Linked DNA regions of Homo sapiens. The protein of the gene in region 2 interacts with the protein of the main gene of each other region in a pairwise test. Each region holds a gene or a part of one and is shown on either strand. Other genes may lie near its edges. The genes, in order: PEX26, BMF and APBB2.

Evidence for each region.
Region 1: the proteins of BMF (region 2) and PEX26 interact in binary tests that used the Homo sapiens proteins (3 or more experiments, as listed by UniProt).
Region 3: the proteins of BMF (region 2) and APBB2 interact in binary tests that used the Homo sapiens proteins (3 or more experiments, as listed by UniProt).

What each region holds. Positions count from the first base shown.
Region 1 is NC_000022.11:18,101,848-18,105,910, reverse strand, and holds the end of PEX26 (peroxisome assembly protein 26), read right to left. Parts: 3' UTR 515-4,063; downstream 1-514. UniProt on the Homo sapiens protein: Peroxisomal docking factor that anchors PEX1 and PEX6 to peroxisome membranes. PEX26 is therefore required for the formation of the PEX1-PEX6 AAA ATPase complex, a complex that mediates the extraction of the PEX5 receptor from peroxisomal membrane.
Region 2 is NC_000015.10:40,087,326-40,089,726, reverse strand, and holds the end of BMF (bcl-2-modifying factor), read left to right. Parts: 3' UTR 1-1,837; downstream 1,838-2,401. UniProt on the Homo sapiens protein: May play a role in apoptosis. Isoform 1 seems to be the main initiator.
Region 3 is NC_000004.12:41,008,499-41,012,154, reverse strand, and holds part of APBB2 (amyloid beta precursor protein binding family B member 2), read left to right. Parts: intron 1-3,656. UniProt on the Homo sapiens protein: Plays a role in the maintenance of lens transparency, and may also play a role in muscle cell strength. Involved in hippocampal neurite branching and neuromuscular junction formation, as a result plays a role in spatial memory functioning.

The DNA.
Region 1 (4,063 bases), on a different chromosome or scaffold from region 2:
CAGACTGGAACCACATCTTCAGCTCTTCTGGGTCTCCAGCATAACCACTGCAGGTCCTGGGTTTCCCAGCCCCTATAATTGCATGAGCCAATTCCTTATAACTCTCAAGATACCACCTATTGGTTCTGTTTCTCTGGAGAACCCTAGTACAGTCCCCTTTTTGTAGATGAGAAACTGAAGTTAAGCCTAGGCTGTTTATGAAAAAACAACCACCCATATGATTTAGGCTTTTTAAAGAAATTATCCACATCTACTGCATTCCAGTTACTATGTGTGAGTGAAGTTCTTCTTGTATGAATTTTAATGCTGTGGGGCCATATAACCAAATATAATTACAGTTATGGCCTAAATAGTTGAGCCACATTCATTAGAGCAGGAGGTAAGATAATTTCTATCAATCACCCAGGAAAAGACTCTTGGCGATATTCATTATCTGTTCAATATTCCCCAACACTGAGCACTTTCTATATGCCAAACACTGTGCTAATGGCTTTTATTCCTCACAACAAACCTCTGAAGTTAAATTTTTATTATCCTCATTTTACAAATGAAGAATCAGAAACATAGAAACATTAACTCTCATTCCTGATCACATAACTGGTAAGAGCTAGAGCTGGGCTATGCTTCAGAGAGTCTGGCTCCAGAGCAGAGCTCAACTGGATCTGGAAGGGCAAACCTTTCATAGAGAGGCTTGTCCTTGTTCTCTTAGGTTAGACTTCAGAGTTCCAATATCCAGGATGCTGCTCCAGGATGGTGGGTGTTACAGATGGAGGTCATGATGTTGAGGGAGGCTGGGAGCCCAGAGGATGAGACACAAGAAAGATCTCTTCATTTCCAGGCACCCCATTGCTGGGGTGAGCCCATGAAGTCCAGAGAGCAAACGATATCTTACCATTAGATTATCTAGATTCAGGTACTTGTCATATGTATTTAACTTTGGTTAGCCCCAAGTACCTTACATACATTCACCCATGTGTCTCAGATGCTGCAGGGGATTAAGGGAAGTTGAGGGTGAACCATTTTGGCCACTGGATCACAAACAAATTGGCTCGCCTTTAAGGTTTACATGGCTGCAGCAGCCGCAATCAAGAGATCACCAAAGAGGAGGTGAATCATGGGACAAATTCCCCTGGGAGGGGTGGAGCTTTAAACCAACATCAGGCAGATGCAAAGAACTCAGCAGAAACAGGAGGCAGTGAGAACAGGAGGCAGTGAGAACAAGAGGCAGTGAGCACTGGGAGCGGGAGTCAGTGACAGACTGTGCAGAGAACACTGAGGCTGGGAACTCAGGAAAACTCACCTCCTGTAAACAGGAGGAAAGGCCAGCCTGTGGCCTCGTGACATCCAAGGCTCTGTCACAGATGGGTAACCACCTTCCTCCGCTACCAGCTCCTAAAAGAACACCTAAAGAGGCGGGTGCGATGGCTCATGCCTGTAATCCCAACGCTTTGGAAGGCTGAGGCAGGTGGACCACCTGAGGTTGGGAGTTCGAGACCAGCCAGACCAACATGGAGAAACCCCGTCTCTACTAAAAATACAAAAATTAGCCAGGCGTGGTGGTGCATGCCTGTAATCCCAGCTACTCAGGAGGCTAAGGCAGGAGAATCGCTTGAACCTGGGAGGTGGAAGTTGTGGTGAGCCGAGATCGCGCCATTGCACTCCAGCATGGGCGACAGAGCGAAAAAAAGAAAAAAAAGAGCACCTAAAGGTCTGTGTGGGATAGACTAGGAAAGATGAAGCCGTCGGTCATCCCCTCCTGCTCTTGGTATTGTGTAGATGATTAACTGTTCCCCTTTCTGGGCATTTTCCTCCTAACCAACACTGAAACAACTGGTTGAATAGTCTCATTTTTTCCAATCACTTCACATATTGCTATGAGTATTGCAAAGTACCCAATCTTTCTGGACCACGTCCTGGCAGTATGTTGGAAGAGCAGAAAAACTGATCTCTATCAATGTTGTAGATCCACTTTCAAAAACCAGCCCAAGAGAAAAACCCAGAAAGAAAACAACTACTATCGTCTTAACTGTTCTACTCAGCCCTTGGTGATTTCACAGCACTTTCATATGCAATCTGTTTACAGCTATGTTATTCACAATAGCAAAAAGTTGGTGGTGGTGCATGTGGGTGTTGACCGGGCTGGGCCAAGAAGCCTCCTCCGGGCAGGCTGCCAGGCTCTCACTGTGGCTGTGGCTCTGTATGGGACAGAGACGGGGCTGAGCTGGCCGGGCTGTGGGCAGGGTGGAGGGCCACCAGCCAAAGGACAGTTGGAGGAATCGAGCTTCATGCTGTCCTTCTCTTCTGCCTCTGATACAGAATTTGATGTTGTGGTTGGATATATAGTACACATTATCATGGATGACATGTTCCGGTTATTATAGAGAAATTTTGTGGACAAGTATTACCAGGAGTTTGAAGACATGGAAGAAAATCAACTCACCTACATGCCTGCTTTTTGATAAATAATATTTGTACATATTATTGAAGTAGATGTGACATTTCATTACATGCATAGAATGTGTAGTGATCAACTCAGGGTATCCAGGATACCCATGACCTTGAGTATTTCTCATTTCTATGTGTTGAGAACATTTCAAATCCTTTATTCCGTCTATTTTGAAACACCCAATACAGTGTTAACAATGGTCACCCTATTCTGCTATCAAGCATTAGAACTCACTCCTTCTATCTATGTTTGTGTCCATCAAGCCACCTCTTCATCCCACATACACACCCTGCCCAGCCTCTAGTAATTGTCATTCTACTCTCTACCTCCATGAGATTAACTTTTACATGCCTTTTTTTTTTTTTTTTTTTTGAGATGCAGTCGCACACTGTCGCCCAGGCTGGAGTGCAATAGCACGATCGCACGATCTCGGCTCACTGCCACCTCTGCCTCCTGGGTTCAAGCAATTCTCCTGCCTCAGCCTCCTGAGTATCTGGGATTACAGGCACACGCCACCATGCCCAGCTAATTTTTTGTATTTTTAGTAGAGATGGGGTTTCACCGTGTTGGCCAGGCTGGTCTCGAACTCCTGACCTCGTGATTCGCCCGCCTCAGCCTCCTAAAGTACTGCGATTACAGGTGTGAGCCACTGCGCCCGGCTACATGCCTATTTTTAATAAATGTATTTACTTGACAGAAAAGTATCCTGAAGGACACCTACTGGAGCGGATTGCTGGATTTAGCACATGGCCTTCACAATATTAGGCATGATAAAGATGAAGGGGCTGGTGCCCTTCATCAGACAGAATTTGATGCTGTGGTTGGATATGTAGCAGACATTACCATGGATGACATGTTCTGGTTATTATAGAGAAATTCTGTGTACAAGTACTACCAGGAGTACTTGGTGCCATAGGCCGGGGACTAGACCTAAGCGATAGTTTAGCGGTGACTTTGTTGAGCAAATCATCTTCTATGCCAGCTTCCCCGAACAAGCTGTGGCACTAGATCCCACCTCCAGGCAAGGAAGAGGATCATCCTGGATGTCACCAGCCCACTGGCTTGGAGAGGCTGCAGCTATTGAGGATAGAACAATACATCTTGGAAAGACTGACTGTTCTGCAACTCATCATTCATGTTAAGTATTAAGGGTCAAAAACAAATGGCTTGATGTGTTTCTCCTGAAACACCTTCTTGTGTTTAGTAACCCTAGTACTCCTCCCATCTCTCAGGTGCTTTTGAATCAGACTGCTGTGGGGCAAACCCATGCCCAGCATTCCACCTGAGGCCCTTCTGCCAGCATACATTCAGTGTGTCAACAGTGTGGAATAACCCACTATCATGAGTCCTCTTTGTCCCAGCAGCTTTGGCATGAACTTTTTTTTCTTTTAAATGAAGAGACGCACATTTTAGTGATTTTCCTTGTGAAATTGCAAAGACTAGAAGAAAGTTAGACACTGACATCTCCATACCTGAATCTCTACCCACTCCATCTCACCCACCACCTGCTTCACAAACTTCCTACTCAACCACCTAAGATGAGACTTCTGGGCAATGTCTCCTCAGCCATCATCTGCCGTGATGTGTCACCCTCAATCATGCCAGGCGTTGTCGAAT
Region 2 (2,401 bases):
TGGCACACACCAAAAAACCGGGATTATTTACAGCAGCCACTATTCACCCCTTTTGGCAGACTCTCCACCTGAGTTCAGTGAGAGAGAAAATGATTTAGATCTTGGTGCTGGGGCAAGGCCATCAGCTTCAGAGACCTTGCCAGGCCCAGGCTGGGTGCCCTGTGGCCTGAGAACTGAGCCCAGACTTTGACAAACCCACCTCAACATCAAGCCTGGGGCAGGTGGAAGGTGGTCTGACTGCACTGTCTCCATCTTATGCAAAGCCAGGAACTCACTCACTGTCTTAAGTGAGCCAGGGCAAAATTTACACCCCTCACGTTTCCCTCTCCCTTCTTCCCCACCAACAAAACCCAGGAGGTAGCTGGCAGAGTAGCTGTCAGGAAGGAGAAAGGTTCTTTCTGGCTGGTTGTTTTTAATTGGCTTAGTGATCTAAACTGGCCCCTTCCTCCTCTGCCTGGTGAGTTGGCCTAAACATTCCTCAAGTCTAGCCTCAGGAGACCTGCCCCTCCCCCCCGACCTCCACCCCCTCAGACTCCATCCCCCACCCCCAGGAGCCTGGCTGTCTCTAGCGAGGGGTGGAGAATCAGATTTAGAGGGAGGGAGAGTCTGACCTGGATCCTGACCTGTAACCAGCTGAAGACGGTGGAGGCTTTGTGGCTTGCTGAGGGTGGGGGTTGGGAGAGGGACTGGAAACCTTCCTCCTCGGGAAAGAAATGCCTGGGAGGAAGGGAAGCCTGATATTCAGGGTCAAAACAGCCCTTCTAATTCACAACCCCAAAGCAGGGGTTTCTAGAAGTTGGTCAACAGATCTGGTGAGGGAAGTCCCCAGGCCAGACGCTGGACTCCTGCAATGAGGGTGGAGGACTCAGCCTGGCCTCTGCCTGGCCTGTTTCAAAGTCTGGGCCACTGGCAGCCTTCTCTTGCTCAATCCGAGGTGGAAAAAGATCACCTCCCAGTGACCTCCCTCAGCCCCCAGGGGAGTAGGTCTGTGTCCAAAGCTATGTGGCAGGCTTGTTTGAAGGACCCAGAGGGGCCCAGCTGACCTGTCTCACTGCTCCTGGCAGCCCAGCCCCATCGGCAGGTGGCCCCTGCCTGGGGGTTATTCGGGATGGTTCAGCCAGGGCCTCCCAGGAAGAGTGCTGTGGAGCCACGGTGACTGTCCTGGACAGCAAGGAGCATGCTACCCCAGTGAGCACTTCTTTTTGAGGGACTTGATGGGGAGGTGGGGTAGGCAGAAGGGACGTGGCAGAAGCGGGAAGACTTTGGTCACCATGGCTCTGCAGGCCTTCTGCAAATCAGTGCTGGCCTGGGCTGGAAACAGCTCTGTGTGTGAAGGTGAGGACTCTTGGAAGCAGGCCATCCTGGCCAGACACCCTAGCAGGAAGGGGCTCACCTGTCACCCTTAGGCAGCCTGAGGGCTGGTGGGGACTTTTGAGTCTTGAGGGGATAGCGGAAAAAGCTGAGCTCATAGGTGCCCAGCCAGCCTCCCAGCTAAAGGTGCTCAGAGCCCCACTGCCCCCTCTCTCTGTGCAGGTGGCCAGTGCCCCTCCCTGCTCTGGGAGCATTGCTAGCCTTCTACCCCATCCCTGGATCCACAGGGGCTATCGAGGAGACCCAGTGAGAATGTAGCATTTTGTTCATCCCCAGGGTAGCTGCCCTGGGGTCTGGGCACTCTGCCTCTGGGAGAGAGGAAGAAGAAAGGGGCCCCATTTTTTAAAAAACTGTACAGAGCCTTTGGCTTTATGTGTTTATGTTCTTCACATGCATATGTGTGTATGTGTGTATATCTTTCCCCCCATCAATTGGTACAATTTTTAATAAAATCATTTAAAGCAAATCTGGTCTTTTATTTTTCAAGGTGTGGTAAAAATGCAAGGAGATCAGTTAGGAAATTAAAGCCTTCTAGCTTTCTCAGCTGCCAGCTTGAGTGACCTGAAGGCGCTCAGCTTTCGCCGTGATTTCCTTTCCCCTCTTGGAGTTGAGAAGAGTGATTCCGACCACCACGCGATAGGCAGCACAGCAGAGGCCCTGTGAGGGGGAAAGATGCAGGTTTTGGACCCGGTTCCCTCCTCCTCCAGCTGAATGATCTTGGGCAAGTTATGTCACCTCTCTGAGCCTTCAGTTCTTCCACGTGTGAAATACGACTGTGCCGGCCTTGCAGGATTAAAGGGAATGTGTCAAAAGGGCCTGTCTGCCACTGGGACCCAGTGAGGGAAAGGACCCCGGCAGCCCCTCCCGCACACACTACCCCACCCCTCCTTTCTATCAGGGTAGCCCCTCAGGAGGCAAGCTAGTTGTAGGGGGACTTCCTGGCTTGCATTTCTTTGTGGATTAACAATGTGTCTGATTCAAAGCGGTGATTTAAAGCTCTTGACAGAGTTCTGAAAATCCTTGGGAAAAA
Region 3 (3,656 bases), on a different chromosome or scaffold from region 2:
GTTCAGGCACAGTGGCTCATGCCTGTAATCCCAGCACTTTGGGAGGCTGAGGCAAGAGGATCACCTGAGCCCACAAGTTCAAGACCAGTAAGACCCCATCTCTCCTCCTCCAAAAAAATTAGTTGGGCATGGTGGACGGTGGCATGTGCCTGTAGTTCCAGCTACTCAGGAGGCTGAGGCAGGAGGATCACTTGACACCAGGAGTTCGAGGCTGCAGTTAACCATGATTATGCCATTGCCCTGTAGCCTGGGTGATCGAGCGAGACTCTGTTTCAAAAAACATAAATGTATTTTTAAATGAATAATTAAGCTGCCTCTTCCCTTCACCCCAGCCCCCTTTCCCAGTGATGACCATTACCTTATGTTTTTATTTCCTCTCAGAAAATGTTTGAGTCATAGATCCGCATATTAATAATAAATTTTAAGACCGGCATGATGGCTCACGCCTGTAATCCCAGCACTTTGGAAGGCCAAGGTGGAGAGATGGCCTGAGCTCAGGAATTTGAGACCAGCCTGGGCAACATGGTGAAACCCCTTCTCTACTAAAACATTAAAAATTAGCCAGGCATGGTGGCGGGTGGCTGTAGTCCCAGCTACCTGGGAGGCTGAGGCACAAGAATTGCTTGAACCTATGAGGCGGAAGTTGCAGTGAGCCAAGATCCCGCCACTGCACTCTAGCCTGGGTGACAGGCGAGACTCCATCTCAAAAAATAAAAATTAGGCCAGGCGCAGTGGATCACCAGGTCAGGAGTTCAAGGCCAGCCTGACCAATATCGTGAAACCCTGTCTCTACTAAAAGTACAAAAATTAGCTTGGTGTGGTGGTGCGTGCCTGTAGTCCCAGCTACTCGGGAGGCTGAGGCAGAAGAATTGCTTGAACCTGGGAGACAGAGGTTGCAGTGAACCGAGATTGTGCCACTGCACTCCAGCCTGGGCAACAGAGCGAGACTCCATCTCAAAAGAAATTTAAAAATAAAATTAAATTAAATTAAAATTAAAAAAAAAAACAATAATAATCAATTTTAAAATTTACCCAAATGTTGTGATGATGTTTTTAGAATCCCTATGTTTTAGAGATATATACTAATATAAAATACTAATCTATGTCATAGTATAACATATATAATACAGTATAACACATACTGATGGAAACAATATTGTGTATGGTATTTTCTCCAAAATAATTGGGATTAGAAGGATAAAAAAAGAAACAAAATTGCCCATAAGCTGCTGATTGTTAAAGCTGCATTATGGGTACGTGCGGGTTCATTATTCTATTCTCTAATTTTGTATGTTTAAAATTTGCCACAATAAATAGTTAAAACCAGGAAAAAGTTACTCCAATTAGATTGTTTTATGAATGCTTTGCTTTTTTTCACGTAAGAACGTATTTTGTAGATCAGTCCATTTTTCTACGTCAGTCTTTTTAAGTATTATGTATACTATTCCACTATATACAAGTTCCACGATTTATTTAGCAAGTTCCCTGCTGATGAGTATTTAGGTATTTCTGTCCATAGCCCCTTGGCTTATTGAGTGCTGGTGTCAGTAGGGGCCTGTGGAGAGGGCAAAGTTTGTGCACTCCAGTCTACCTACTGGGACTCTTGAAATGTACACGTTAACTCCCTCTTTCCAGGAAGACTTTCAGGGGCCCCTCTGCTGTGACACTTACCACTCATTTGCTCAGTGTCCTGACATTACTTGCTGTTGGGTTTCCACAGAACATCTTACAGTGCTTGGCCTGTGATGAGAACTGGATTAGAGTTTTTTTTACATGTTAAGAAGATATGCTTAGTTTTCTCTCTGAAAGTTGGTTTTGACAGGATGATGGTGGCCCTTGATAAGTTGCTGAGGATAGGTATTTCAAATCAAATATGCTCGAAAAAATGTATTAGCTGTGACCGAAAAGCAATGAGATTGTGTTTTTAAAAAATATACTAGAAGCCAAACCTATGCCAGCCTTCAAAATGTTCACTTGGGATCTCTGCACCTGCTTCAGCATGTTGCACTGTCTCAATATTAATAGTCATAATTTTGGGAGTCCTCTTTTGGAATTGCCTCAGAGTCTGCTGTGGATCCCCATGAAATGAAATCACTTTGCTTTAATCACACTTCAGGTTTCAGGTAATACATAGATTGGTGAATGAAATAAAATAAGCAGTTTTTTAGCATTGTATTTCTTTTGATTTCATCCTTCCTGTGAAACATACTGTTAGTGTTTAAAATAATCATGATCAGTCTAAATTAAACATTGTATGTTTCACTTGTAATGATAAAGTTAGTGTTTATTATGTATGTTTTATATAGTATATACATGTGTATGTGTATATATATAAAATAAACACAAATACCAACAGTTGAAAGAAAAGAGAAAACGAGAGCAAATATCTTGTGACATCTTAGTATGCCATGCCATAGTACATGTATAAAAAGGGTATAGTTGTCTGTTGACTTGCTGTGTGTTAAATACATAGTCATCACAGTGGTGTGTGTTTTATGACTAAATCATGATGCAATTATCTTTGGATCGTAGACTGCACTTTGGGGAGCCTAGAAAAATAGACTCATTTCTACCTCAGGGGCATCCTTTCCAAGTTAGAATGCTATTTATACAATAAAATGCAATGGCTAACCTAGAGACTGACTACTTTCTATTTTCCTTTACTACTGAATCGCCCCCTCCAGCTGTTTAGTAACTTCTTTTTGTACAATCAATCATGTATACAATATGTGGCTGCCCTTTTCCTCCTCTGTAGTCTGTCCTTTAAGAAAACAAGAGGCTATTTGAAAAAGGAAAAGCATCTGTGAAATGACTATTTTCATAGGAGTTTAGAAAAGTTAAAGAGTGCCTTGGCCCTGATTCTAAAAGAAAGGTTGTATCTTGCTACTGCAAAGTGAGAACTTTGAATCTAGTTAGGGTTTTTTTCAAAGATACAGTTCCCTCAGTGGCCCCAGGTAGTAAGCATGATGGCTCAGATAAATAAATACCTGTTGGTCACACTGTATATAGTCTCTCTGTTAATCACTTAGTGTTTCATGTTTGCTTTATGAAAACGTTGAAAAGATGCATCATTTTGAACCTTCCTGGGTACAGGTTTCAGTGGTACCCACATGTAATTTTATGTTTAGTTTGGGATTTAATAAAATTGAAGACACAGAGTATGAAACTAGATGGATCTTGTGTAGTAACTGTTTCAAAATCAGATTCATTGCTAAAGTGTACAAAAGCAGAATTATACACAGAGAAAACCAAGTCCCAAGTCTAGATGGGTGTGGCAATGCGCCTCATGATCCATTAACTTATCATTAAGAGCATAGGCTCTAGAGTGAGCTTCCTGAGTTCAAATCCCAGCTCTGCTATATCTAGGCAGTTCTCATAGCCTCTCATCTATAAAATGGGGATAAGAGTGTTTTGGCATAGACCTGCTGTGAAGATTAAGCGAGAGCATCTTCAAAGAGCTTTTAGGAGCAGTATCTGGCATATAGCAAGAGCTCAATGAATATTCATGATTATTATATTAGAGACAGTATCAGTACAGTGGTGTGTTATAAAAGTTTGCTTTTCTCTTAATTATGAATTACCTATATTTTGGACTCTGAGTTACGACTTTCTGGACCTTAAGAGCAAGGGTTGGTTCATCTTCATCTTTGTATTTT